7 separate regions of the Homo sapiens genome follow, and regions 2, 3, 4, 5, 6 and 7 are each reported to be linked to region 1. Evidence: microRNA targets listed by miRTarBase, many of them from high-throughput screens and not tested one by one. Region 1 holds a microRNA gene; each other region holds the end of a gene's coding sequence.
The links. The annotated mature microRNA hsa-miR-30c-5p reads UGUAAACAUCCUACACUCUCAGC and lies in region 1 at 1,592-1,614, opposite strand. An mRNA with a match to its seed (bases 2 to 7 or 8) in the 3' UTR can be bound and repressed. Matches are read on the target gene's strand: a 7mer-m8 pairs with bases 2 to 8, a 7mer-A1 pairs with bases 2 to 7 and ends in A, and an 8mer does both.

Region 1 (4,223 bases):
GTGTTTGATGAATAAATAATGATTGACAGAGAATTTGGATTCAGAGCTCATAGTACAGAGTTCTCTGCAGCCTCACATGACCCCCAACAAACATGAATGCTACTGCTCTTAACACTACTACTGGGGAGAGAAAGAGTCCTCTGATTACTATCGTAAAAAGAGAAGGTCACTTAACACAAATATGGGACAGAGAAATGACGGGGAGAAGGAGTATGCAACTTGGCAATGATACCTAATCTCTCCCTTTAAGGGCACAAATTCCACTTCTCACACAGACACACAGACAGCAGGCATGGAGTTCACTTTAGCACCTCTACTCTTCATAAGGCATTTCAGACATTTTTTTTTCCCTTCTAAAATTTCTGAGCTAATAGGGATCCTGGAGAACATACTGTCTAGTACACTTTCCTCATTTGACCTTTGAGAAAAACAGGGTCCAGAGAGATTAGGGTAACATCTCACCCCAGTAGCTGAATCTGGGGAAAAGTTCCAGTTTCCAGACTTTAAATCCAGTGCTCTATAATGATCTGGCTGCCTCTCTGCCCTCATCAAGCTCTGCCCATCCAAAAACCTAAGGGGCACTGTCTTGCTGGATGGGCATCCTCAGCAGCTCACAGACCTGGCCCTGCTGAGGCTGTGCGATGATGATCTGCCCAGGCTGGATGGTGGTCGTGGAGCTGGTGGTCTGCTGGCCTTGCTGCTGGCCCTGGACTTGGACAGCGGTGGGTTGCTGAGCCAGCGTGAAATAGTACTGGACTGGCTCGGCAGGAGTTACAGACTGGCGCACCTCCTCCTGTTGGGTGGAAAGAGAGGCAGGTAAGAGGAAAAGAACCAACTCAGCAGCCGCCACAGTGAATTTCCACTCTTCCCCCAAACAGGCTATGTGCAGTTGCCTGCTGAATGCTGAGCTCTCCACATTTGAAGCCAAAGGAAAGTGGAATTCAAAGAGACCAGTTATGCTAAATCAAACTAAAAATAACAGATCCTATAGGCTTCACAAAACATACAGCCAATTTCTGAAGTACGAAATAATCACCCATTGCATGATAAGTTGCAAACGGGCAAATAAGTACCGTAACTAAAAACCACACACCAGCAGTGCTTGTCAGTAAATGCTGTCAAGGCCTGTGATCTGAGAACAGTGCTAATTGCAAGTGTTGGGAAGATGCTACCCAAACATCATGCCTCTCAGGCCTGGTCCCAATCTCCCAAATAGGCAGCACTCTTCTCGTTTTAGCCCCACCACTTCAAGGGGGACAGAACAGGTTAATGGGAAACAGGGCTTTTCCTGAGCTGAAATTTCAGGATCGAGAGCACTGGTAGGCAAGTACCCAGCTTTTCACAGCTTGTTGAAAGCTCTGTGGTCACTGAGGGCATGTCTATCCAGTGTCACATCTGGTTCTGGTTGTACTTAGCCACAGAAGCGCAACCCAGGGGGCCTGATGGACAGCTCTCCGCTGGGGTACTGCCTTGGCTGATTAGGGAGGTCGCATTCTGTCCGATCTGCGGAGTGGAGACTGTTCCTTCTTCAGCTGATGTTTTCCATGGCAGAAGGAGTAAACAACCCTCTCCCAGCCACCTTGAGCTCACAGCTGAGAGTGTAGGATGTTTACACACACTACAGCATGGTTATAGCCCACAGGGTCCAGGGTTGATCAGCCCCTGACCACTGACACAGAACGGCGTCTGATCCGGAGTGACCTGTGTGACACATGGTGCCCCTGCCTGGGACAACAAAAACAATAAAAACACAGAACCACTTGGGCTGGCTGAGTAAAAATATTAGCTAAATTTACTCATGTCCTTATTCAGGGCAAAGTTTGCCACGTTCCAGAAAAGAGGAAAAGACACTTCTTAGATGTACACAGACCCTGTGGATTGCCTCCAACTCCCCAAAGTAACATTTACAAAGCTGGTATTGACCCCATCCCCACACTATGTTAGGTGCCCTCAACTGTGCTTCCAAAGTACTGTCCTCACAGTATACATTTTTGCACTTGCATGTCAAATTAACTGTCTGTTCTACTAAAATGTTAAGCACCATGAGGGCAAAGCCTAGCTCTCTCTTGCTCTCTGCTATCCCCCGCGTTCCCAGGTAGGCACTCAGTAAGTGCGTGATGAATGATGAATGGATTTAGACAGGCAGACAGTTAGAGGCAGGAAAGTAGTTCTCTGAATCCAACTTGCTGATATGACAAATTCTCTTAAACCCAACAGCTGTTACCAATAGAAAAAAGTAGTCTCTAAACTCTCTTTTGGTACCTCTAAGACTCTGTGGCCACAGTGTGAGGAAGCAGCTAGTGTCCCCTGTGGAACAGAGCTGAGTATCCTTTGTTTGCCTGATGTCTGGGGGCTAGGATACTAAAACTAGGACTGCCAGTATCTACCCCTGAGAAACATGGGTCTCTGCATGACATGGTTACTTGACAGCCATCTACCCAGCTTAGGGAGATACCTGTAACATTCTGGGTTTCTAAGTTAATATATGAACTGACTTTTTAGGTTGATATAGTCTGTGCTTCAGACACAAATAGTTTTAACCCTCAATATGATTATGCTAAGGCAGAAGGAAAAGGAGATTCCCTTTTATTTTCATCTAGGTCTCAATTTCCACAACAATTTCAACCCCAACTTATCATCATTATAAATAAATGTCAGCCTGGAAACTAGGTATTGGCTGTGGCAAAGCTAAAATACTGATACCTTTTGCAGCCAAGAAACAGAAGCCAACTGCTCTTTGCAAAGCTATTGAAGTAGGTTCAAGGTACTTGTGTTCCACTGAGATCTCCCTTATTATTTTACAAAAAGCACAAATCACTGAAATCCAGACCTAACTTGGAAAAGCTCTTGGGTAATGAGAGGGTATACAGGAATGAGAGCCTCAGAACCAGCTGTGTAGGAAGCTAGGCAGCAGGGAGACACCTGCATTTTCTAGCCGTGACCTGTGATTGTTTAGTCTCCAGTTATCCCCAACTACAGCTGATCTAGTATTGAATATGATCTTTTTGTCAGACAAAAAGCAAACCCTTTAAAAACCCCTTCCAGAACCCAAAATATCTCTTGCCAAAAGCTGTGAGAGCAGGACAAGAGCTCCTCCTATGCTGCTTACTACATCCTCTTAAACTGTTTATGAACTAGACAGTATCTAGGACACTGAGAATCAAGTGGAGGCACCTAGGTTTGTGTTGTTAGGACAAGGCACAACTGTTCTCAAATCACTGGAATGGAAGAAGGCATATCTAAGGCTCTTCTGCATTATGAAGACTCATTCTGCCAATGGAGGTCAAGCCAGCAAGGAAATGATTATGCTTGGTTTAAAGAAATGGGTGAAAAGATAATGACATTTCAATGGGCAGGAACTTTCAACTCAATAGCTTTAGTGGGGCAGAAGTCAGGCCTCAACTACCTCCTACCTTCAAATAATCTTTACTTGCTTCTCTGAAGAACAAGCGAAACTCTCAAGTATCTTTGAGAAGTCAGGGCCTTGGACTCACAATTCAGTATTTCTGACTAGTTCCTTTTCCCAGCAGTGGGAGGTTGCCCCAAGTGGCAGAACAATGCTTTAATGACTGGATCAATCCAGAATGGGGCACTTGCTCAACTTTAGCAGTGGCCTCCCCAACTACAGGGCTTGCTCTTGGAATCTTTCCAGAAGCTGAGACTGACGAACAGTGCCAGAGAAGAGCAGCATCACATCCTAGGGCCATCTCTACAGTGTTGTGCAACCAGCCCTGACTGGAAAAAAGTACATTCGCTTTAGTAGCAAGAGTGAACTGCTGCCTCCTTCAGAAAGGGTGGGTTTTGGAGAGTAGGCGTTTTAAAGGACTTTAGGAGGTGCCAGCCAATTTGAAGCCTGGGAAAACTTCATGTCTACAGAGGATTAAAAATGCTATCTTAGAATTTCAGGCCAGCTTTCAGCAATCTCAACCTTTCAAAGGCCAGGCAGCAGCTGTCCCGAATACGATGCCAATCAATGCCTCGAACACCTACAAAGAACTAAATCCAAGCAACAAGAAGCTGTTTCAGCTAGACACACTTTAAAATCAGATGGATCATAGCATTTTGAGTCTGGCTAAGATGGAATAAGGAGCTGTATGACACCCCGAGAGACCCAGAAGCACTGAGGAATTTGGAGGAACTGACAGGATGTGACCCTTCTCTCCAGCCAGTGTATTCAGCAGGCAGCCCACAGAAAACAAGGAGTTAGCACAATGAGAGTGAGC
Region 2 (4,223 bases), not on the chromosome of region 1:
ACACAGAGAAGTTTTTTATGAAGTCATACCAATCTTTCCCTTTATAGTTGCTACTTTTGCTATCATAAAAAGGACCTTTCCTATCCAAGATTATATTATCCCATTGTATTTTTTCTTTTATGGTTTCTTTTTTAACTCTAAAATCCAAAATTCATCTGGCGTTTATTCTGCCGTAGCTTGTGGGTGAGACTTTAAATTACTGTTAAAATATTTGATGATGCTGTTAACTGAATCAGCATTGATCCAAGGTATATGCATAGTTTTATAATTTTTTTTTAGTACATGAGCTTTAATACCTTTTGAAAACTTACTTACACTTATAAAACTATTAATTTGCCATAAAATTGTCCCGGTTGACAGTTGGAAATATTAAACATAAAGGTATCTTTTTCTCCCTAGGGTATAGAACTTGACCAGTTAGACTTACGAAGAGATATTGCCTACAACTTGTCTCTCATCTATCAGAGCAGTGGGAATACCGGAATGGCTCAAACGCTTTTGTATACCTATTGTTCTATATAAAGCACCGCAACTGAGAACAGAGCAATGGCAGCTGCTGTGTGAGGACCAGTGTCTTCTGTCTCAGGGCTTATTATTTGTAACTCCAAAATAGAAATGACAATTTCAGAATTACCTAACAAACAGTGTATTTATTTTTAATATGTGATAATGATCTTGTGGTATATATGCAAAATTATTCCTACAAAAATTTGTATATTGGTCTGTCATTTTCCTTTCACATTCTATAGTGAATTGTTCCCAATGTTGAAATGGACGTGTAAGCCTTTGAGCTAGCTTGGAGTCGAATACACTATTTTTCACTCACACCATTTATTCATCTTTGTATTTAATACTATAGCTCTGTCAATATCACATGAGGCAGTTTTTCAAATACGTATAAACAGAGGTTGCTTATTATTAAAGGAAAGACAAAGTGGGACTCTTTATGATGTCATGACCATGATAACTAAGCACCTAAGAAAATTATTTAAAATAGTTATGTGGTAGGCAGAAAGACAAATAATTTAGTTTTTTACTTTTCACCAGCATGTATCTTAGCTACCTAAACTGAAACATGGGAGGCTGGGCTTAATTCAAAATATATTGCTCCAAGGCAAATAAAAAAATGCTTTATCTATATTTGTGGCTTTCTGATGAAAAAATAGAGAAGAGCTTGTTCAATAACAGGACATGGTTTCCATTTCAAGATCACAAGTAATATAAGACTGGGCAAGTAGTACGTATGGAATAAAGGACATACTGCTGATTGATAAAGTAAAAAACTTTTTTTTTGTTTGTTTACTCATCTCCACTATTTATTATATGTTCTTGAATTTAAGTTAACAGTACTTTTTAGATGATATACTGTTAGCTTAATAACAACTTTTTAGGGAAAAATAAATGCTGTAATTAATGTGCACATGGGTTAGTAACACCCAGCCCAATTGTGGGAGGGAAACAAGTAGAGGCTTAGGATCAAAGAAATAAAATTGGGACTTATTAGAAATTCTTACCACTGTTTCTACTGTACACAAAACTTTCTAGTTGAGCAGAATTTGTATGCAATAAGTAAATATATTGTATACTCCATGTGTATAATTTAAATGCATTTTATTTTTATAATTGAGGTTAACTGTTTCACATGCTTAATTTTTACTTTATGCCATTTATAGGTAATGGTAGAGGTAACTGAGATACAGTAATAAGTTAGACTTGTGTGTTGGAATTCTGTGGAACTGAGCATTCTGTGCTCCGAGTTTCTCTCTTAAATTAGCTCACTGGACTGTGGCTCCAGTGTCTACTAAATAGCCGTGGAGGAAATAAGTCTCCCTAAGGGAAAAAAAAACCAGCTGATATTGTATAGTTTTGTTTAGCTTTTAAAATCATAGCTTCCATTTGCTGAGTTTTTACTCTGCTACTGTATGCTAAGTATGGTGCTAAACACTTTGGATATGTTATCTCTGATTCTCTCAGGGAACTGCAAGGTAGTTATTATTGATATTGTCATCACCACTTTGTATCTAGAGATTAAATAGCATGTTCAAGATCACTAGTAAGCTGCTCCTTGCTCAGAGATTTTCCTTCAGAAGAACACAGTTGCTGTAGTTCAGAGTAACAACAAACATTAAGCATAAGGTTTGTTTTTTTTTTTTCTTTTGAGACGGAGTCTCACTCTGTCTCCAGGCTGGAGTCCAGTGGCATGATCTCTGCTCACTGCTACCTCCACCTCCCAGGTTCAAGCGATTCTCCTGCCTCAGCCTCCCGAGTAGCTGGGACTACAGGTGCCTGCCACCACCTCCAGCTAATTTTTGTATTTTTAGTAGAGACAGGGTTTCACCATGTTGGCCAAGATGGTCTCGATCTCTTGACCTCGTAATTCGCCCGCCTCGGCCTCCCAAAGTGCTGGGATTACAGGTGTGAGCCACTGCACCCAGCCAAGCATAAGTTTATTTTAGAAAGAAAAAAGACATTGGCAGTGTTTCTGTCTTCCAGGCCTTCAGCCCATCAAAGCCCCTGTATAAAAACATCTTTTGGGGTCTCTTTTTAAAAGCTCCTATTCTCTTACCTCCCATCCTCACCTTAGCAGTGGGGTCCTGGTACCTGTTTTATGCACTGAGACTCTGCTGCTCCTGCATGATCACAGTTGATCGAGGAGGGAGTCTGCTCCTGAACCAACCTGGGCCAATCAGGAGTTTCCTCCCGCCTTCCCTGGGAATTTCAGACTTGAAATAGTTCATGTAGGGCCAGAACTTCAGAACAATGAGGCCAACTAGCAGTTAACCCGTTCTGTTGAAAAAAAAAAAAAAAGTGAGGTGTCTGCATTAAGAGAAGTAAAGATGAGCGAAGGAGAGTTCTCTCTGAAGTCCCAGAGATTTCCAGTTTTCAGTTCTATCCTCAGGCCAGCTGCCTTCTTACCCTTGGATTCGTTCTAGGAGATAGCCTTGATTCTGTTATAGTTTCCACTTTAATATTTACACCAGCTTGGGTTTTTCTGTTAAATGCACATACAAAAAATTTTGACCTGATCGACCACCATTCCATCTTTCTTTTAATTTAGCATTACTGCTTTCTAGCCATTTTCATAGGAAGAAAGTATAAAGCAAACAGAAATGAATATAAAAATTTGTTGCTGAATTACAAGTAGTGTCACGAAGTCTAATCCACAATAAACAGGCTTTTCAAAATCATTCAGAGCAAGAACAGGAGGAATGTTCCTGCTGTGGTGTTGTAAAGCTAATAGTATTATAATACTATAGTTCATATTGAAAGAATATATACTCCAACATAATACTGAACAGGGTAGGAAAGGAGTTAATGGCCAAGATATTGGGTGAGGATATGAGTAAGGGGGGACTAGAAATGAACTGCATCTCCAGGCCCATAGTCCCTATACTAATGGCTATGCTATGAAACTGCAAATTAGAATTTTGAGGCATTCTCAGAAGAAAATGACCAAATGAACTGAATTTTTTAAGTGGGCAAAAGGTGGATTCTGGAAACCACTTGGGCATGTTAGTGCTGGCATGATTCCAGCCATCTGTGTGTTCTTTGAAGTGATGTTCCTTAGGATACTTACTCTTTTTTTCCAAGCAAAAAGGCCAGCTGCCTTCTCACCCTTGGATTCATTCTAGAATCCAGATAGATTCTTTGATTCTTTGATCAGGATATCCTTGATTCTATAATAACTTCCACTTCAATCTTTTAGGAGATACACTCTTTTTGCTTGGTACTAGACTGGTGGTTCTGAGGACTATCTTACATTTTATGTATCTGGGTTTTAGCAGAGTCTGTGAGGAAGACTGCTGTGATATGCTTATGGATTGAATGGGAAAGTGTGGCTGGTTCTTCAGCCGGTAGAATGACCGAACTCAAAGAATGCATGTTGACAGACTGATGTAGACTGGAGAGAAACTGCAAATGACATGCCACCATGTTCATTAACGACTTAGGTGACAATATAAGGCATGGTCAAATTTGCATGGAGGGAAACTAGAAGTTATAATAAATACCAATACTAATGAATTAATGAAAAATCTCAACAATGTTATTAAACTGAACTGGGGTCTGCTTGCCCAGCATGGTAAGGCCAAACATCCATACCAAGGTTTTCAGCAGGAGAAAGGGGGGCATTTATTTGTAGGCACCTTGAAGCAAGGAGAATTGGGCAGTTTATGCTTAGGACCTGACCTCTTCAATGGCTCATAAGGAAGGGTTTTTAAATG
Region 3 (4,223 bases), not on the chromosome of region 1:
ATATTGATAAATAACCACTACATTATGAAATATAAGTATCTTTGAAAGCATCTATCACTTGAGTTGATTTGCAACTTCTCATCAGTGTTCTGAGTTGGCCCATTTTTTTCCAATGAAAGATCCCATTTCCCTTGCCTTTGAGAAATACAATTTTTAAAGATTCCATTTAGCATCCTTTATTGCATTCCTACATCATAAAGTTATGCTTTATAGCAGCATAAAAAGCTGTAAAATTGGCATCCTTGTAAACAACATTCCATGAGCACTGGTGAAGCAATCCGTAATTTGTACTGATCTCTTAAATGTGACTTGAGATTACAGTATCCACGATTTCAATTTTTTTTAAAAAAAAGCACTAACATAAAACAAGCGAGAATATGATGAAATGCAAAAACAAGGAAAAGTATTTTTCATTAACTCATATTTTAGAAATTTGGTGGTTGTGTGCTGCTGAATTCTTGGATGAGTTCTCAAATACAGAAATGTTCCGTTCTTGTATGAAATTCAAAATGAGCATGTTTTCTCTTCTTTAATATTTTAATGTACTAAAAATAGTCTTTAGGAAAGTGTATAACTGAAATATTCTGTGAACCCACCCACCAGTTTACCTCTAATTAAAATTCCTAAGGTAACATGAACAGATTTACTTTATCATTAAAAATCATAGCTTTTTGTTCTCATCTCTGAGGAGATTCCATTGTGTTCTCTTAGTTGAGTAACGATTACAACAGCTCCTCAAATTCACATGTAGCCCAGCTGTATTGTATTTTAGCAGGAGGGTATTTTTTAGGGTTTACACTCTGAGGCAACCAAATGAGAAGTCTTCCCGTGGGAAAAGGGGTGCCCTCTCAATGCCTATAATGACCATTAAATTTCAAACCACAAGATTGATTTCGGTTAGCCTTCCCAAGGAAGCCTGTGATATCGATTTGCCTCCAAGTTTAAAACACACCGCAAACCTTCCCCTCGGCCGACCGAAGAAACGGCATTTTTTTCCTACTCCTTTGGGGCAGTCCCCTGAGCACGTGCCTGAAGTCGAGGTTAGTACGCAGCCAGCAGGGACCCTGACAGGAAACCAGAGCAGCCCCGGGGTTGGGGGAGCCCTGGTAGGTGCTGGTCGTCCCGGACACGCCTCTTCTGGAGAAGCGCGTTTGTCCCTTACTTGGGAGGTCCCGGGTATCTGAAGCGGATCCCGGGTCTGGGGACATGAAGGGGCGCCGTGGCCTTAGGGAAGGCCCCAAAGAGGCCTAGGCCCCGGAGGAGGCAAGAGCCGCGGCCTAGCTTCCACCGCGTACCTGGGGCCAGACACGGCTGGGGCGGCGCCGGAGAGCAGAACTCCAGGCTCTGAAGGCCGAGGGTGCGAATTGTGGTCCCCTCCCACCCACGGCCTCCCCATCACGCGCACGCAGCCCGCGAGGGGCGCCCTCCGCGCCACTGCCCCAGGGACACCGTTCATCTGAGGAACTCTCGCGCCCTGCGTTTCGTGCCGACAGCGACGCTCGGAGTCCCACCTGGGAAACCTGGGTTGGCCCGGAAACCTCGGGAGGCTCAGAGCTTGCGTGAGGCGCTCGCGGCGCCCCAGCATGCCGCCCCGTCGCGGAGACCTCACCTTGCAGCCCAGAAACCGAACCCAAGCCCACTGCAGGGCGAAGGGCCCACGCGTTCCAACTGGCGCGAATATAACCATTCCCAAGACCGGCCCCTCCCCTCCCCCCACGAGACCCCTCCCGCCGTTCAAGGTCACACCAAAACCCATCATTCTCTATATCACATACTGAAAATGATTTTATTTTATCCATTTACATTTAACTTGATATAAACTTGTCCGGAAAAGTCAAATAATATGCTTTATATTAGCTCAAACATTTATTAAGAAAACCGAATTCCATAAATAAACACAGACATTAAGTTAAAACATATCACAAATTGACCAGTATGTAACAAGAATGCTTTATCTACACAAAACATCCTATTTCACATATTTGTTCATTCTTAGAAAGCGCTTCTGTTCTCTGGGTTTGGATTTGACCAGCACATGCAGAAAGAGCTGATTGTGTTTCTCTGTACAAAGTTGCAGGGTTGTAGATGTCCGAGTGCCCCCATCGGCTGCCAGCAGGTGGCCGAGGGGCACGAGGGACGACAGGACCACCACAAAACAACCAAGGGCACAGAGCAGCGAGAAGACAGAAACAGAAAAGGAAGCAAACAAACCCCAGTCCTGAAGGATCCAGAAAAGAGATGTGGCTTTTGCTTTTACAAAAGAAAATTTTGCTTACACGTTTATTTTATTCTTCCTTATAAAGACTTATCAAAATGGGTCAGATCACCTCTTCCTCGTCACATGACTGCTTTAGTCTACTCCAGCCACCCAATCCACTGTCACGTTCCTCCTGAGAAGCCTTCCCTTCTACACTCTCACACAGTTGTGCTTAAGAAAATGAAAATAAGATAAAATAAAAATAAAAGCGTTATCTTGCAAGCCAAGAGAGGGCTGCACGGATGTGACTGGGTGGACTGGGCAAGGGTAGCGTGGTGGGAGAGGAAAGAAAGACAGGAGCTTGGAGAGTACAAGGATAAATCAAATCATATCAGTTGGGCCCTCAGATGAGGCGGTTGGTAGCAATGCTTGTCCTCCTTTAAGACAAAAATCCCTAACATTGTGCTGTCCCTTGAACACGTCCGTGTGTGACCTAGGTGCACCGTGTCTGTGCGCGCGCGTGTGTAGCGTCTGAGCGTGAGCGAGAGTGCGAGTGTGTGTGTTTCTGCCCACAAACCAGTCCATTGGTGTCTGATTTCAGATCCTGAGTCGACTCCCTGGTACGTAAAATGGCGGGAAGGATACTTTTTGCCGGGCGCGGGAGGAGGGTCGCGAAGTGTGGGGAAAGAGGGGACCGGAGGGGAGGCGGCGGGCGAGGGGGGTCGTAGGCGTCGCGTCGAAGGTGTGGGTGGGAACGCCGCCCGTCAGAAGGCCAGGAGGAGGGCGCGAGCACGGCCAGCGCAAGCAGGGAGGCCAGGGTGGCGGGAAGGGTGGGCTGAGGCGCTGGAGACCGAGCCGAGGGCGCAGCTGGGTGGGAAGGGAAGAGGGGCGGCCGGGAGACGGGGGACCGCGGGCGATCGAAATCAGGCGGAGGGGAGGCCTCGCGGGCTGGGGCTTGGGGTGAGCCCGAGCGAGTGGAGGAGAGAGGCGAGGACGAAACGAGACGGGGCGAAGGCCGGGGCGGGACGGGGCAGGGCGCCGGGGTCCGGGTGCGCGCCGGAAGGGCCTCGGGGCGGCCCCCGGGGCGGTGCTGGGGGCGGAGCGGGCCGGGGCGCGGCTGCATTAAGTGAAGCTCATAGAGACTGTGTGCTCTAGCGCCTTGCGGCGGAGGGAGGCGATGCTGGTGCCCCGCCACACGTCGCTGCTGTCCGGGGAGCTGCAGAGCTGGGGCGAACCGGAGACGTTGCTGGGGCCGGGGAGGGAGGCGGGCACCATGCCGGGGAAGGCGGGCTGGTAGAGGTGCGACTGCAGCCCCGCGCCGTTGGAACCCGCCAGGCTGTTGGACAGGCCCATGGAGTTGGGCGGCGGACCGGCCGCCAGGCTGCACTGGGACAGCGACTGCGCCATGGCCTGCTGCCTGCCCAGCGCCGGCGGCAGAGGCAGCTGTGACACGCCAGGCATGGCGGCCGCCGCCCAGCGGGTGTCGTTGGCGTGGAAAGAGCACAGGCTGTCGCCCATGGCGGCGGCAGCGGCGGCGGCAGCCGACGGGAACTGAGGCAGGCCTGGCGTGGGCAGCAGTGTGCCGGGCGCACGGAACACGTTGGTCGTCTTTTTGCGCTTCTTCCACTTGGCGCGTCGGTTCTGGAACCAGACCTGGAGCGGGCGGGGCGGGAGACAGACAGGGAGCTATTAGCCGGCCCGGCGGCTGGGGAGTTGGGGCTTGAGCCCCAGAAACCCGCCTCGGATACAGCCGCTCTGCCCTGGGAGGAACAAGTGCCGTAGGCCCGACAAGCCCCCATACCCAGCCGGAGACTGTGGCTCCCCACCAACTCCTGGCAACTGGCGCCCCCTGCACCCACCAAGCGCGGAGTCCTGCGCTCCTAAGAGCTCGTGCCCCGAAGAGTTTACGCACTGTGCAAACACACCAAATGTGTGCAGTCTTCACCACGCCCCTGCACATTCTGTGCACTGCACAGATTCACAGGTCTGCAGTCAGGCATGTGTCAAAGTTCGACCCACAGGTGTA
Region 4 (4,223 bases), not on the chromosome of region 1:
ATTCATTAAAAGAGCCATTTGTAAGCTTAAAGTAAGTTTGAAAGTGCACTTGAATTAATAGTCCTAGATTAATTTAAGCCCAGTGAACACTTGGACCAATCAGATAACAGAAATATTAGAATGTTTAACCATCCTACTGTTGATCATAATCTCTCATGCTAAATTCATGTGGCAAAATCATTTGTTTAAAAACACCACTATCGGCTGGGCACAGTGGCTCACGCCTATAAGCCCAGCACTTTGGGAGGCCGAGGCAGGCAGATCATGAGATCAGGAGTTTGAGACCAGTCTGGCCAACATAGAGAAACCCCATCTCTACTAAAAACACAAAAAATTAGCAGGGCGTGGTGGTGGGCGCCTGTAATCCCAGCTACTCAGGAGGCTGAGGCAGGAGAATGGTGTGAACCTGGGAGGCAGAGGTTGCAGTAAGCCAAGATTGTGCCATTGCACTCCAGCCCAGGTGACAGTGTGAGACTCCGTCTCAAAACAAACAAACAAACCAAAAAAACCACTATCTTTTCACAATGAGCTTTAATATTTCAGGCCACAGCCAGTTTGCTGTATTCAAAAACAAAGAAGCAAACAAACATTAATGATATAATATCATTTTGGTGATGAAAAACCTGTGTATTATTCTTTCATGTTCTAAGAATCATAACAAAATCTAAAATGTTGGAAAGTTATAAAAAATTTATTTTCACTCCCCCCAAATCTAACTAAATTTTATGTTAAGTAAACACAAAATTACCATAGAAATGTATATGACCTGAAAATTAAAAAAAAAAACACCGTCAGTCACAGAATGTTTTATTTTAAACTTACTGTAAAACTTTCAAATACAACACATGTGGCAAAGAAACAACAGTTCACACACAACATCTGCCACAATTCTCTTTGAACTGCCATTTCTATATTATGTGATATTTTACAATTTCTTTCAATTTCTTACATTCATGGTATTCTTAAAGGCAGCAATGTCAATTTTTCTGCTTTGAAAATAGTTCAGTTAATGTTCTGAAATTGCTTAACATGACATTTTCCTTTTAGTATTCTACTGCTGCCCACACTGACATAATTCAACATATTATTTATAAACTGTTGAGAGGTATACTGTACTTAATAAATCAACTCCCAACTCTAAGTTAACCTCAATCTAAAACAAGCATTTTCTTAAACCAGTATACTCAGCTACTTTTCTCAAAAATATTTCCATTCTGAAATAAGATTTTTTGTGAGATACAATAGTTTCATCTTTTATTCCTAACAGAACTCATGCCGTACTTTTTTTCTCAAAATATATTTGATATATTCTGTGCAAAATGTTAAGTTCTGTATAGGCATGTACCTTATATTGAAAAAGTTTATAAAACATAATTCCTAAAAACAACCTCAACATTAGACAATAGAGGAAGGAAAAACATCAGACAAAGCCTAAGTTTTCACATGAGAAACTAAGTATGTTCTTAAAGCTCCAGTATTACATTCCTTGAAAAAACTCAGAATGCACTTTGGTCATTATTAAACATATTTGAACATAGGCAAATAAAATGAAATGCTTTCTGTTGTTTTTCATAGAAAGAAAAAACATACTACACAATGAGGCTGAATTGAGGCTGATCAAAAGGAATGGTAAGAGCAAAGTGATATGACATGGCTCTGTTCTCCACACATTCCTGATTTTAAGATTATGATTTAGGGATTAGAACTGCACCAATCAAATAAATTATTTACAATTAATCGTCTTAAAGTTCTTAAAATATGGTAAAAATATGAGGATATTCCACATGATACACTTTGCACCAAGAAAATTCTAGATTGTTTCAAATAAATTTTTAGAAACCAGATGCCCAGTTTAAAAAAAATTGCAAAAACTGTTTCATGTTTCATGTAATTTCTAAAATACTCGATTGTACAAATATAACAACTTAAAATCAAGGCCCAATGTAAGACACTATCATATTTGCCCGATTTACCTAACACACCAACATGATAAGTTCTCATTGGACACTTGGCAAATTATTTGTTGGGGAGGTTAAAAGCATCTAAAATAGCCCTTATATAATGGGGGTGGGGTGGGGAGAATGCACCAGATAAGTTTAGAGGATAGAATTTGCAAGCTGAAGCTGTCTTTTCTGAAAATTTGGATACAGTTTTACAACTAGCAATTAGAGAAATATTTTATTGGTTCTTAGCCTTATTCTTCAGTTGTTCATTTCAGTGTGGTATGAATAGCCTACACTAGAGTGTACCATGGGGAGAAAATTATTTACTTGAGTAAACATAATGTACTTTAGTAATATCAGTAGGCACTTCACTTGTGAGATGAGTATATACCTCACTCAAAAGGATACCATATCATGCCCTAGTATACTATAACAGATCCCATATAAAGATACGCATTAAAAGTAACAATTTTAAAAAGTGCACATTTTGAGCATGCACAGTTGGAGCTGTGCAAACAGCCCAGTGTTTCAAATAAATACAAGTATTACTAGTTAATTTTTATCAAAATATCTTACAGTATGGTAACCATTTACAATTATTGCTCTATTACAAGTTTTATCATCAAAGAGCACTTGTTGACCTGTTATATAATACCGTATATATTAATACTGAAGGGTGCTTAAACTGTAACTTAATCAGTTTGGATCCTGGCATTGTTCCAAAATAATTCAAGAGAAACCCTGACTGGATCTTGATTTACCAAAGAAAATGTTTTATGTGTATAGCTGAGTTCAATGCAATATTCCAAAGTTAAAGAATTTTTCCTCAAGTAAGGCAAGTTCACGGCATTGATGGAGAAACGGTGCTGAGCAATGGCTTCTATTTTCACAATTTGTTATTTTGCCAATTATTTATGACCAATTACCAGGATCTCAAGTATCTGGATATCAGTTTCATCACCCTTTCAACAACTAAGTACATCAATGCTTAAAAATAAAAATATAAAGACTAAAATAAATGTAAAAAAAAGTGAACCAGTAAAATAAATATAAGAATTGCACAAGACAGTCTGATGTAAACACTTCAACTCCCTAGCTGAGACTCCTGAAGCAAAGAATCAGTGACAAGCTTTCAGGCAGCTTAGTCAGTACTCTTATTCTGGAAAAGAGGCTACATCTTCTTTTCTTTGAATTGTCATGACTTAATCTTCCATAGCTAGAAAAAAAAAAATAGAAGTGGTGACAAGCCAGTTTTAATATCAAAGCTTAAATTATATCATATAACACCATTTTTAAATTCAAATTTCATTCACAAACAAGTGCAGTTTCTAATATTTTAACTCCTTTATCCTTTTAAGAAGAACTCACCTTAAACACAAACAAAAATGTGAAAATCAGATTTCTATTGCTTTCTCTTGAGAAGTGGCTATATATATATATATATATATATATATATATATACACAGTACTTGTTTAATATGATTATCTTACACCTTCCTAACAGTTAGTTGTGCATATATTGGAAGATGTATGCATTGCTATACAGATAAATAATACAACTTTTGGCCAAAAATAGAAATAAGGCTTTTTTCTTTTTTATCACCTAAATTAAAGCTTTATTAGTAAAAATAAATACTTCTTGCTAGGCGCGGTGGCTCACACCTGCAATCCCAGCACTCTGGGAGGCCAAGGTGGGTGTATCACTTGAGGTCAGGAGTTCGAGACCAGCCTGGCTAACATGGTGAAACACTGTCTCTACTAAAAATACAAAAATTGGCCAGGCGTGGTGGTGCACACCTGTAGTCCCAGCTACTTGGGAGGCTGAGGCAGGAGAAATCCTTGAACCCGGGAGGCAGAGGTTGCAGTGAGCCAAGGTCGCGCAACTGCACACCAGCCTGGGCAACAGAGCAGACTCCATCTCAAAATAAAAAATAAAAAAAACCAAATACTTCTACTTATCCTACACAAGACTTCTATTTATAATAAATACTGTTCCAAGTTAGAAATTCCTGCAGTATTATAAAACATAAATACATATAATTCTTTGAAATTAAATGTGAAATGTTCAATAATTGCAATCTTACCAAAATGACCGCATTACTGTGCATGTGAGGGTAAAATGGGCGCAACAAAAATGCAACAGGAAACTAAGAAATAAAAAGTACTTGCAACCTCTTACCTTTAAATTAAATCCAAGCAAGTCACTGATAACACCAGAAACAGCTGACAGGATAACAACCTGGGTGATGTTATAAAGCAGCGGATTCATTGTAAGCCCAT
Region 5 (4,223 bases), not on the chromosome of region 1:
GCTATTGAAATAATTATAGACTAATAGCTAGGAAGCACATGTTTTAGGAGGAATGACATGACTACACTACACTCACTGATCCCACCGGCCAAGATATCTCCCACATGTGTCTGTCACACATCAAAGCACGTTGCCGTTACACTGCCATCTGGGTCCCCTCTTGGGCCCCCCCATGCTTGCTCCGTAGACCTGCTCTAGGTCCACCTGGCCTCCTTTCTTTGCCCACCCTTTCTTTCTTGTGCAAAGGCCCTGAGGCGGCAGAGTATTTGGCATATTTGAGCAACAGCAAGGTGGTCACTGAAGCTGGGGTGGATTGAGGGAGGGGAGAGAGGTGGGACGTGAGTCTGGCTGGCCCTAGAATATAACCTGGACATGACACAGGCCAGTGTCACCGCTGTGGCAGGCACTGCCTGCAGAAAGTCAGTTAGCCAGGGGCTCAGTAGCAGGGTCTGTGCTTCTTCCTGCAGAAAACAGGCCAGTGCCAGCCCAGCGTGCCCTGTGCCTAACCACAGGCAGAGCCTCTCCCCAGAGCCAGTCCCCGTGAAACTCACAGCGTGCTTCTGTGTTGGTATACAGGAATCCGAGCGGCTGGAACTCATGAACGCAGAGCTGAAGACCCAGATTGAGGAGCTGAAGCAGGAGCGGCAGCAGCTCATCCTGATGCTGAACCGACACCGCCCCACCTGCATCGTCCGGACCGACAGTGTCAAGACCCCCGAGTCAGAAGGCAACCCACTGCTCGAGCAGCTCGAGAAGAAGTGACCATGGGCTGGGAGGAGGTGGAGGAGGAGGAAGAGGAGAAGGAAAAGTGACGAAGAGAGAGGAGGAGGGGGGCCCCAGATGGCCCTTCCTTTGGTGCATGAAAAACTGTACAATGAGGTTCAGCACAGCCAGCATCAGCCGAGCTTTTTTGTGAAACTCAGATCAGCCACCCAGGAGGAAGAGCGGGCTGAGGAAACCCAGAGGGACCAAGCGCTGAGACCAAAGTTGACCCTCGGGTAGGGTTGTCCTGCCTGGGGCCCCACTTGAAGGAGGCAGGACAGAGGCACCGAGGCCAGGGAGACGCCCAACGAGGCAGCCCTGGGCTCTTCTCTGGCCTCTTCACCAGGGCACCCATCCAAGGAACCTCCGAACAGCCAGGAAAAGCCATGAGTTGCAACCAAAACGCGGCTGAGGATGGAACTCAGAATGAAACTGCAACCCACCTGCCCCCAGCCCTGCCCCTCGCCCTGATGCGAAGCTGGAGAGGGGCGTGCTGCGGGGCCCTGATGCCCCCACCCACCTCGGTCCAGCGCGGCCCTGCCCAGGAGGCGGCAGCCGGGCGCACCCTCGCCAGCCCTGCTGGAGTTTGCTGTGGGCACTGAGGCGCGGGCGCCCTTCCAAAGCACATACTCACCGAATGTTTACAGACTGGCTGTCCTGGCAGGGCTTTCAACTGCACATGTTTTTTATACTTTCCTTTTTTTTTTTTTTTTTAATATTTTTTACAAAAAAAAAGATTTTATACAAGCAATATATATATGGATTTCTATAATCACTCGATGTGATACAGTATAAATATGCTATGGTTTGTTTGTTATGAACAGATAGCCACCAGTTACGGCCGTTGTGTGTAACTCCTAAGTACTGTAGTCTCTGGGTGTCGGGGGTGGCCAGGGCGGGGGCGGGGTGCATTTCCATCCTTGTAAACCCTTCATAGTACTCAGTCCTGTATCGCTCAGTAAACATTGCTCTTACTTACATAGCCGCCTTGCGTGGTGTCTGCCTGGGGAATGGGTGCAAGGCCCTCTCAGGGTCGGAGACTGTTTGGAGCCTCTGCTATAGGCCTGTTCATTTTCACAACAGCTCTCCTATTTCACAGATGAGGAAGCTAAGGCTCAGAGACATTAAGCCACCTGCAGTTACTATTTTGAGAGCAGTCAGAGTGTTCGCTCACTCTGCAGATGTTTTCTGAGGGCCTGTTGTGTGTGCCAGGCCCTGAGAATTCACTGGAGGATGAAACAGACCTAAGTCTTGCCCTTGTGGGGCCTCCAGTAAGGAGTGAATCCTGTGCTTGCTCCATAAGTTGTCTCATTTCGTCTTCATGGCAGCCTTGCCAGGGAACAGCACTTGTCCCCAATTCACAGATGGCGAATTAGAGGTCCAGGGAATTAAACTCGCAGACACCATTTGTTGAAGACTTATTTTGTGACAAGCAGACATAGTCTCTTCCCTTCTCACAAGAGCACAAACTAGGCACGATTCTTCTCATTTTACAGATGGTTTAACTGAGGCTCAGAGAAGGTAAGCGACTTATCCAAGGTAACCCAGCTAGCAAGGGATAGAGCTGGTGTTTGAACTCTCCCTCCAGAGGCCTGTGACTCTCCTCCTGTCACCAACCCACTATGATTGTCCTCATGGTTGAATAGGAAGCTTATGAGGCCACAGTTATAGATTTAGTTTCTGGGAAGGCTGGATAGAGTTCCAGGTTGTCCCATGATCACAGAGTGAACCAACTACCCTGGTCAATGTGTGTCTGACCCAGGGAAGGGTGTGGATGGCTTCTCTGCCCCCTCACCTCGACAGCTGAATCCCTGCCACCCAGGGCCGGAGCAGCTCAGTGGCATTCACTCAGTGCCTGCTGTGTACCTGGCACTCGGCAGTTCTCAAGGCATGTCACGCATGAGGAAGGCGGGAGAGGTGTTTTTAGCTTCCTTGTATACTGAAGCTTGCAAAGGCTACAGTTTACCCAACTAAACTTGACTCCTGCATTCTAATCATGTGTTCTTTCTCCTCCATCCCTGGACTTAGGATAACTAGTTGCTGGTGATGACTTCGTGTCAAGAACAGCAGTGAACCTGGGTTGCTTCCCAAATTGTGGACGAGGCCTTCTGGGATGGGCAGAAGTGGAGAATGGTGATTAACACACCTGTGATCCCTCCCTCGCTCACTCCTCTCAGTTTCCCTCCACCCAACACACTTGGTGTGGACTCCCCTGCACCCCGCCCTAGAAACAGGACCTGGTCCTCTCACTGTCAGCTGTGGCAGAAGGTTGTGGCAGCGGGTTGCCTTCTGTCTCGGGGGTCTTGAGGCTGTCGGTCCGGACGATGCAGGTGAGGCAGTGTCAGTTCTGCATCAGGAACCCCTCGCGCTGTAATCCTTTGATATTTTTCAAGCCATGAGAAAAATGAAGTGGACTTACCAGGGTCCCTCCAGTGACCTAGTGGATGTTCTTACAGGACTGCCGTGTGCCACTGGCTGTGGCTTCCCTGGTCCTGTGCTTGGCCACCGGGAGCTGGCATCTCCAAAATAGAGCCTCCTTAGCCTGTGCAGGTGGGCTGTCTTCCAAAGTCACCACACCAGTGACTTGTGCTGTGCGGAGCCTTCCTCACCAGGACCACTGGCTGCTCCTGTGGCTAGAAGTCACAATTATAGGCTTCATTGCAAGAGCCAGCATTTGAGTTTCTTCTGGGCACCTGCCACTGTGCATGTGTGACCTCAACTGCTTTGTGCACCCTGACTGGGGGGTAGGTGCTAGCGTTCCAACATTACAGATGAGAAAACCGAGGCACACAGAAGAGGTAACCTGCCCAAGGTCACAGGTGTTAGGTGGCAGAGCCAAGATGTTATTGTCAGTCTGACTTCAGGTGCATAAAACCTGAGGCTGAGCCTCCCCATGAGAGGAAAAATGTGTTTGTGGTGTGACCTCAGTTGCCAGGGAACTTGTGCAGGAAGCCGGGAGAGATGGCACAGACCCACCTGTGCTCACAGTACATGTTAAGAATTCCCAAGTCTCAGGCAAACCATCTCCAAGGGTGTTCACAGAAGACACACCTTAAAGGCAAACGGGTTCATGATGTAATCTTCTATTGACTAGCTGTGAACCTCATTTTTCTTATCTGTGAAGTGGGAACAGTAATAATCCAAGTCTTTTTATGGAGTTATCAAGATCAAAAAAGGAATGGATATACAAAGTGTTTTGTGAAATAAAAGCTCCCTAAAATGGTAATTATTTTGTCCTCTGTTAGTGTCGGTAGTTATTGATATCTACATAGTACAGGTTATTTAAATATGTTTTATTCTGTAAAGATGGGCTGCCAAGTTTGTGTTCTGACCCTGTACGTGGTCCCTATGGTGTGATGAATGCCTGGGATCGCAGACTCCTGGATCTGTTCAGCTCCTGACTGGTCACAACCAGCCATGCTGGATGCATCATTCCCTCCCTGGGCCTCAGTGTGCCCTCC
Region 6 (4,223 bases), not on the chromosome of region 1:
CTGCTGAAAGAACCAAACAGAACTCAACTGAAAAAAACAGACCTTTTAAGAAAAGCAATAGATCTTAATTTGGTGGCAAGATCCCTGGTTTACCTTTTGAAGTCAAAATGTTCAATACATCACCCGAGCTTGACTTTTGAGCACTTGGCAAGATTGTTTTTTGCCACTTGACACAAGTATGATGTCCAGCTATGCAAAATGACTGTTTGATCTGCCTTTTCAGTGTATTTGTGTGGCGATGTCTGTAAAATGCCAGAAGCCTCTTATGTTATTGCTGCTGCTGCTACCAGCCAGCAACTGCAGAGGCCATGCTGAGGTGCCTCCTTGCCACCAGCCGTTGGGAAATGCCTACCATGCTGCCCCGGATGCACAAGCTCAAAACGCTGCAGAAGTTACACAACTGCTCCCATAATCTGGACTCTCCAAAACCGTGATGCCACGAAGGAAGGTCAAGTTTTAAAATGTTAAAGACTGCTTGCCTCTGTTCCTGAGACTAAACAGTATACATACTAACTACATTGACAAAGAAATCCTATCTGATAATGTAGCCCGCTGACGAATTTTGAAGCCTCGGTTACCCTAACCAATATGTAGCTTTTAATTTGCATCAAAACTTTTACAAAGATGTTTTGCTATTGTTTCTATATACTTCAAGAATGTTCATTTTTACAAATAAGTTGAACAAGACAGCCTAAGTTAGATGCACCGAAGTACTAGAAATATCGCTAGCCTCTGTTCTCCAGTTTAGCTTTCAAAACCAAATGAGCCATGTATAAAGGAGTTGAGAAACTTAATTTTTAAATGTTTCATTTGCAGAGTTTTATATCCATTAAGTGCCTTTGAAAGTTTCCAGTTGTGTGGGCTGCTGTCTCACCTCCCACCAATTTCTCCTTTCTCCATATGGTGCTAAAACCTCAAAGCTGAGGAGGGCTGCAGGACCCTTAGCAGATTCAGTGTGTCACCCTTGTCCTGTGTTCACGCCAAGGCTTCCTAAATGAAAGACATCGGTTACCTGCTTATGGGAAGGTGAGCAGCAAAGGAATTGAAGTTCGGGACAGGGTAGAATTATGGGTTTTCATTGTGTTTCATGCCAAACCCACAAAATCCAAAATAGAATTCAAGTTAAACAAACTTCTACTACAAAATGGAAGGGGAAAAAGGCTCAGGAAGGTCTATGAGAATGAGCTGACTTATCTCGTTAAATCTTAAGATAAATGAGGGTAACCCAAGGCTGCACCTTGGTGTACCACCCTGAGTGGAGTTGAGGTGACTTCATTTGATTGCTTCAGGCGAACTATATAGGTCAAGTCCAGATTATAAAAAAATTATCTGCAGAACAAATTGTAAACCCAAGGAATAGCTGGTAAATCAAAATTATAAAGTGAGTTAGAGTTCCTTGGAGTTGGTTGTATGACGGAATATGACTTGGACAATCTTTACCAGAAGCCATCCGTAAGCCCCTCAGTCACACTTTCCATGTAGCTGACCAGTGACTACAGGATGTGGCTGACAGTGCTCACTGAAAGGAGAGTTGGTGCGGGACTGGTGGTTCTGAGCACATAGACGCCTATTAGTCCTTCTGGTCAGTGAACGAAAATTCTAGACCTACAGTTACTGGCTACTTGCATTTGTCAGTTTAGAGAAAAGGTAAAATGAGGCATTTTCAATTGTAGAATAGACTAACATTTACCACAGAAGTGCTTCAGCATTCTAAATGGATTAGATCACTCATTAAGCTATTTTTATATGCCAATTTACTAATGCCTTACATCAATCCACTAATAGGTTGTTGGGCCCGCAGTAGAGTCCCTATGCAGTCCCAATTCTGTTTTCTGTAACCATGTGACTGGTGATGCAGAGTGATAACCATGTCTGCCTATCTTGTACTAGACTCTTCATGCTGATCGGATCTTGCATTGAAATAACCATGTGGAAGAACAATGAATCGATTAATGATGACATGTACAACCATATTTAAAGAGCAATAGTGTCCGTGTGTCATGAAAAACTTATTTGTAAACGTTTATATGGTATGATTTTGATTTTATGTATGTTCATAAATCCTGCACTGTATGATATATGTGAGTTAAAACATTGGTGCATGAATTTATTTTCAAAGTATAAAACACATCACTTAAACATTTTATGTGTCAAATAAAATTTGATTATGTAAACACATTTGTTGACTTTTGTTTCCACAGTAAACAAACAAACAGCTGCACCATCAGCTGAAAAAAACCCTTCTAAAAGCACAAGCTACCATTCGCTGGTTGAAGCAGTTTACCCACTGTGTGCATTTTTAATCTGCTGCAATTTCATGAAATGAAAATACCAAAGCATATTTTAAGTCTATAAGCTTTATTGATACTTTGCTTTTACAGTTCACAATGCATTCCACAGATTTAGTTCAGTACAGCTTAAACCACAATGGTATAAATCTTCATTTTGTAATTAATAATTTCTTGCATAACAATGTTTGATATTTGCAAACAAACAACATTTTTGGAAGCATTAGATTCAGTCCATAGATTCTGTGACAAAATTAACTACAGTCAGTCTGTGCAATGAAATTGATGTTGGAGTTCTATGTGTGTGGCATTTCATGTTGAAAACAGATGGTAGTGCTCCTAGAAATATTTCTTCTTCTAGCTTATGTGCTTTGGAACTACACATGTATAACCAATGACTGACTCTGAAATATCAAGCACTGTGGGGTGGCTGGAAGGTAAAGGTCTAAGCTTTGTGAAACACTATACATATATAATCTATATTTACTTATATTGGCAATTAATATAACAGTAAAAGTCACAATACACCTAGAACATACCAGAAAAGCAAGCTTTGTCATTCCTGCTTTACCGGTATGATCTCGTCTAAACAAACATTTCATTTCAGAAAATCTGCATCAATCTACACGGACCATACACAGTGCACAAACTGAAAAGGGCTTTTTTTTTTTTTTTTCTAGCTCCACCATCTCTGCAACTTGCCAAGATGCGGCAAGACTATCTGCAACAAAGTAAAATATACAGGTTTTTTATTCCACCAGTGCCTCAGATAGATAGGAAAAAGATATGATTACGGTTTAAATCCATACATAGCAGCTTACAATACTTAAGATGATGAACACATGGCAGTCAAGACAGGTAATTTTTCCTCACAACAGTGCATGGCTAAAAATAAAGATCTAACAACGATCTGTGAAACTGCACTGCAACGTCAAGGTTCGTTCTTCCCTGACCCTCCCCCGTATAATCAAATGAATATCCCCTTTAAAGATGAACTCCTACTAATTATTTTGGGCGTTTTCATTCAGCTTTGCGCTTCAATCCAGGGATTTTTGCTTGGATTCTGAAAATGAAAAAGTCAATGTAAATATCAGTTTTGTTTGCTGCTGCTTAAAATACCATCTTCCAAGAACTACTTGTATGTTATTCAGCTAATACAATAAATGAAATCCTTAAAGCTGCCTAATTCTAAGCTATAATTTTGCCACCTTGGCCTCATGAATTAGATTTAAACAAAGCCTTAAACACATAATAAACCCAGAAACGAATGGTCCAAATGTTAGAAAAACAATCTTTTGGCAACTCTGAAGTCACACTTAAGGTCTGATAGAGATTTGTTACTCATTATGCCTGCAATATGAAAATACTGTTCTCACAATCCAGCACACCTTATCCTAGTAAAAACACTGCAGATTTTAAATACTTACTTAGCCATAGCATCTTTAACATTCTTATTTGCAAGTCCTAGATAATGATCTATCTGTGCCTGAAAGAGAGGTATAAAGGAATTATTACCGTTGCTAAAGAATCTTATTAACCACTACTATGTGTCAAGCTAAAGGCTTAAGAAACCATCACACTTCTCATTTTTGTAAGACATTGAAAATGGGCACTAATACATCCGTAAATCCCATGTAATAGAGTGAGTGCTCTATTCTGAAGTCAGCAGTTAGTTAGGAAATTACCTGATGCCGTTCATAAATAACAGGAACACTGAAGAGTGAAATGAGAGCTGAAAAGGGAAATATACAACTTTTCAAAAAGAACGGAATGATTTGGGAGGAATAAACACTCAAAAAACTATTAAACTGGCAACTCAAGATAACCAAGCAGTGTTCCTAATGAATGAATAAAAACATAAGGATCTCTGGATGCATCTGCTGTTGAGGAGCCACTCCAGAGGAATGAATGAACTGTGTGAGGCTGCAGTTATTA
Region 7 (4,223 bases), not on the chromosome of region 1:
GGCCTGGACTCGTGCCTCCTTCCTGCAGACACCATACTTTTACTAATGCACCCTAATATTACGTTTTTGGCAACCCCATGATGTTAATTATGACACATTGAGTTTGCAGTAAAGAAAAACCACAGGTGGCCGGGCGCGGTGGCTCACACCTGTAATCCCAGCACTTTGGGAGGCTGAGGTGGGCGGATCACCTGAGGTCAGGAGTTCCAGAACCAGCCTAGCCAATATGGTGACGCCCCATCTCTACTAAAAATACAAAAATTAGCTGGGCATGGTGGCGGGCGCCTGTATTCCCAGCTACTCAGGTTGAGGCAGGAGAATCACTTGAACCCAGGAGGCAGAGGTTGCAGTGAGCCAAGATTGCACCATTGCACTCCAGCCTGGGCGACAGAGCAAGGCTCCATCTCAAAAAAAAAAAAGAACGAAAAAAAGCAGGCATTTTTTGTTGTGCTTTTATGTTATTTAAACACAAGCTGCCAAGTGGTCTCCCTACCTGAAGCTGTGTGGCCCCATTTTTTTTTTTTTTTTTTTAGATGGAGTCTTTCTCTGTCGCCCAGGCTGGAATGCAGTGGCACGATTTCGGCTCACTGCAACCTCCATCTCCCGGGTTCAAGCAATTCCCCTTCCTCAGCCTCCCGAGTAGCTGGGACTACAGGCGCACATCACCATGCCCAGGTAATTTTTGTATTTTTAGTAGGGACGGGGTTTCACCATGTTGACCAGGCTGGTCTTGAACTCCTGACCTCAAATGATCCACCCACGTCAGCCTCCCAAAGTGCTGGGATTACAGGCGTGAGCCACCGCACCCGGCTTGTGGCTACATTTTTGCAGACATTCACCTTGAGGCCGTATCTCACCTTGTTTGTTTTGGCCCATTTTCTTGTCAACATATTCTCAACAAGTAGGAGCCAAAATATTCTGTAACATAAGATGAATGCAATTTCCGTCATATCCATTCTGAGTCCCAAGGACCCTCGGAATCCTAAGGCATCTTTCTCTCTTGCCCCAAACATCTGAAGGTTACACTTTCCCCCTCCACTGCCCCTAAACCACCAATGTCAAATAGGTGCTCTTTTTTCCTGGCCCTAGGGGAGCTACCCAAATTTTCAACAGGCATACACAGAACAAGTGTCCACATGGCTTCCATATTTCATGCCATCTTCTCACACTCCAGCACACCTCAGCTACCTCTGTTCTTAGCTACATTATGGAGCCCCACCTGCTCCACCTCACCCTGTAAAACTCACTCCCTGGCAGAGTTTGCTCCATATTGGCCAATGAGCAGCTGGAATAGCTGAGATGCAACTTTGTGCTTGAAGAAAACCCACATCTACCCTAAGGAATTTAGGATACTTAGTACACAGTAAATTCCTGTTAGTGAATCTCCAAACAACGTCCAAACTGCCCCTGGCATTTCTTTCATTTCCCCATAAAGTTTCTGTGACCTTATGGCATTCACCTTGCTCCTATCAACATTTTCCCCTTTAGTTTGGTTTTTGTTTTTCTTGTCTTTTTGTTTGACCCTGAGGTTTCTCAGTTTGGACACAGAGTCTCTAACTTACTATTGTTCAAGACTAGTTCGGGCATATCCCTTGATTGCAGTTCCTGTGTTTCTTCCCACTTCTGTGGCTTGTGGTTTCTCAGTAACAAAAGGGACCCTCCACCGAGGGTGGAGGATCCAAGTTGTTGTTGGCTGCAGAATGACAGCCTCTGGCTTGTGATCCCTTCAAATGGTCATGTGATGAGTCAGTGTTTCTATTATTCTCCCAAAGGTCCCTTCGTGCAGAGGCCTGGAGTGATGCTAGTTCATCAGCGCCTACATGGAATGGAGCTGTTCCAGTTGGCTACAGCCACGCTCCAAAGACAACCTTTCACCCCTAGAGAGGTGATTAATGGTGTTTAAGAGGGGATGTGGGAGTATGGCAGCAGAACATCAGTTTCCAAAGTTGGAATTCAATCCCGAGTGAATACACCCAAGAGTGTACAAAACAAAAAATCAGCAAAACATAGCAAGGACTCCACAGGCTTCCAAATTCAAGACAAGTCATTGACAACCTTCTTCTCAATAGCAGGTCTCAGCAGCTGCAGGTCAGACCACAAAAGTGCCCCAGAATGATCATCCCACCACATTCTGTCTTTCTGATTATGACACCTTATAGTCAGCGCTCCCATCTAGGATTAAATTTTTAAAATAATCACAATGTGGAGACTGTTGCTTGCCTGCCTCATTAAAGCTGGCCTCTGGCAGGGGGGCAGGCCCTTTCAAATTCAAACTATGACTTCTAGAATTCAAATCACAGTGTTGGGTTTCCAGTTCAACCTGTGGTTTTTGAGAGGCTGATTATTTTTTGTTAAGACCCTTATCCCCCACCCGCAGAACTCTCAGAAGAGTAAGGGGAAAAAAAGGTAATAAAACACAAGGAATTCCTTCAGGGAAGGAAACTTCCTCCAGAAGACCCTCAAACCAGGGATGCTTCTTAGCTCTTTTCTTTTTAAGCTAGAATCTCTCAAAACCACAATTTGAACTTGCAACCACAATTTTCCTGACACTGTATCAAAGGCTGGTCTTAAAGGAGCCACCAATATGCCTAGTATCAACCCTACTCCACCGTGGGGACAGAGCAGCCTTTCTTCCCACCGGATCACTGAGAGAAACGTGGTCCCAGACATTGGCCCACCAAGCTGAAAAGAAGACAGGCTTTGTTTGCCAGACAGAAGAGTGAATCCCATATGTGCCCTACTCCTGCTGTATTCTCAAACCAAAAGCACCAAAGGTTCACTTGATTAGATCAGAGGAAACAAAATGAGGGTCCAAAGGGCATGTGGCAACAAGCAGCTGGGAGGTACATGAGGAGCTACTAGGTGGCCTGGGGGCTAGATGACTGGACACTGCACACAGAGCTGGCTATAAAACCAGGAAAGGCAGTCCAGGCAACCCCCAGGCCCAGCAGGTTACCGACAGAGGCAAGTAAGAATCAAATGGTGTCAAGGACAACCAAAAAGACCAGTGAATTTCTAAGCCCATCATCCTTGGGATCCCATCAAACAATCACGTGATGAAGAAGAGGTATAGATGTCTTCACTTTCACTACTTGAAAAGAGCTGTTCTAACAGCAAGGGCAAGTGAATGCAACAACTGCCATAAAAGGGAGGATACTGCCTAAGTTCGCAGTAAATTAAGAATAGTTAACCTGGAGTCCTGGATAGCTGGGCAGGGTGAATAAAAGCAAAAACAAATGTACCTTTCTTCTTATATTCTACTTTATTTGGTAAAACTCAGAAACTAACAATTCACATCCTCCCACCTTCTTCTTTCCGAAGAAGGCAGTTTGCAGAGACAAAAGGGCTGTGGCGTGGGGATCATCCACCATCTCCAGGTTTTACACCCAGGCTACCCATGGCTTGGCAGTCAGGCCTCTAGGCCTGATGCTCTCAGAGGCAATAGAAGAAAAGTAAAAGGAAGGTCTCACTTCACAGACAATGAAACCCTCCTAACCCTCTTCCCCACTACCCACAACTCCCTACACTGCCAATCTAAATAAAAAGAGGACAATGCATGAGTGTGAGATACACATACACACACACACATACACACACACACACGCACAGCTTCCTTTCAGCCAAAGAACTGCAAAATCCTTCCCCGGAAGGAGGACAACTGGCAACACCAATCAAGGCTTGGTGGTCTAAGGTGATGGCTGGAATCATGTGAGACTGGTAAAAATCCAGGGAGAAAATGTTTCACCTTCAGCTCATTCCCAAGTCTCTATGAAGCCCGCCCCACTTCCACATAGGGGAACTGTGGCTCTGGGGGCAGCTGGCTTAGGGAAAGGCCTCCCATGGCCAAGAAGACGATGGTGGAGAGGAGGGGGAGGGCAGCAGGGCAAAGCCTTTGGGGAGGGTCAGCAAAGGGGCCCCCTGCCCTTGGCTAATGGATCCGAGTTAGCTCCTCCACAACCTTGATGAGGTCGTCTGCAGTGGCCTCTCGCTTCATACCGCTGCCATCGTCATACTGCAATGAGAAGATGGGCGGGGCTGTGAGGACCAAGAGGGTGCTCTCCCACAGGTGGGGAAGGGAATGCCCCCAGTGAAGGAGGCACAAGACTCCACCATTGTCATGGCAGAGGAAGGACTCACCAGAAACCCACGCCTCCCCCTGGGTGGCACAGGTCAGCAAGGACACCACCTGGTCTATTTCTCCCTCTTCAAGATTCTCCCTCTTC

Region 2: miRTarBase lists GTF3C3 as a target of hsa-miR-30c-5p. Seed matches in the 3' UTR shown: 7mer-m8 at 1,297-1,303.
Region 3: miRTarBase lists OTP as a target of hsa-miR-30c-5p. The part of its 3' UTR that is shown has no 7-base or 8-base seed match.
Region 4: miRTarBase lists PHTF2 as a target of hsa-miR-30c-5p. Seed matches in the 3' UTR shown: 8mer at 3,018-3,025 and 7mer-m8 at 2,275-2,281.
Region 5: miRTarBase lists JDP2 as a target of hsa-miR-30c-5p. Seed matches in the 3' UTR shown: 8mer at 1,401-1,408.
Region 6: miRTarBase lists RTN4 as a target of hsa-miR-30c-5p. The part of its 3' UTR that is shown has no 7-base or 8-base seed match.
Region 7: the mRNA of DDB1 is a reported target of hsa-miR-30c-5p. The part of its 3' UTR that is shown has no 7-base or 8-base seed match.

What each region holds. Positions count from the first base shown.
Region 1 is chr1:40,754,691-40,758,913 of GRCh38, reverse strand. It overlaps MIR30C1 (microRNA 30c-1), which reads right to left and starts at 1,630; the gene lies at 1,542-1,630. It overlaps NFYC (nuclear transcription factor Y subunit gamma), which reads right to left. Exons shown (of 10, transcript NM_014223.5): 6 at 620-793.
Region 2 is chr2:196,760,862-196,765,084 of GRCh38, reverse strand. GTF3C3 (general transcription factor IIIC subunit 3) reads left to right here. Exons shown (of 18, transcript NM_012086.5): 18 at 400-2,050. The coding sequence ends at 522. Among named protein-coding and RNA genes, the nearest start is that of GTF3C3, 37 kb to the left of the region's middle.
Region 3 is chr5:77,626,945-77,631,167 of GRCh38, forward strand. OTP (orthopedia homeobox) reads right to left here. Exons shown (of 3, transcript NM_032109.3): 3 at 1,768-3,850. The coding sequence ends at 3,320. It overlaps OTP-AS1 (OTP antisense RNA 1), which reads left to right and starts at 2,727. Exons shown (of 2, transcript NR_198942.1): 1 at 2,727-2,817. RefSeq lists enhancers at 1,393-1,958, 3,716-3,765 and a silencer at 3,106-3,545.
Region 4 is chr7:77,953,794-77,958,016 of GRCh38, reverse strand. It overlaps PHTF2 (putative homeodomain transcription factor 2), which reads right to left. Exons shown (of 19, transcript NM_001395272.1): 18 at 4,123-4,223; 19 at 792-3,159. The coding sequence ends at 3,139. Among named protein-coding and RNA genes, the nearest start is that of DDX3ILA1, 34 kb to the left of the region's middle.
Region 5 is chr14:75,468,714-75,472,936 of GRCh38, forward strand. It overlaps JDP2 (Jun dimerization protein 2), which reads left to right. Exons shown (of 4, transcript NM_001135048.2): 4 at 577-4,223. The coding sequence ends at 762. Among named protein-coding and RNA genes, the nearest start is that of JDP2, 43 kb to the left of the region's middle.
Region 6 is chr2:54,969,848-54,974,070 of GRCh38, forward strand. It overlaps RTN4 (reticulon 4), which reads right to left. Exons shown (of 9, transcript NM_020532.5): 7 at 3,974-4,020; 8 at 3,716-3,774; 9 at 2,342-3,351. The coding sequence ends at 3,309. It overlaps EML6 (EMAP like 6), which reads left to right. Exons shown (of 42, transcript NM_001039753.4): 42 at 224-2,178. The coding sequence ends at 248. Among named protein-coding and RNA genes, the nearest start is that of RTN4, 78 kb to the right of the region's middle.
Region 7 is chr11:61,296,208-61,300,430 of GRCh38, forward strand. DDB1 (damage specific DNA binding protein 1) reads right to left here. Exons shown (of 27, transcript NM_001923.5): 27 at 3,244-4,012. The coding sequence ends at 3,929. Among named protein-coding and RNA genes, the nearest start is that of VWCE, 3.0 kb to the left of the region's middle. RefSeq lists an enhancer at 3,915-4,223.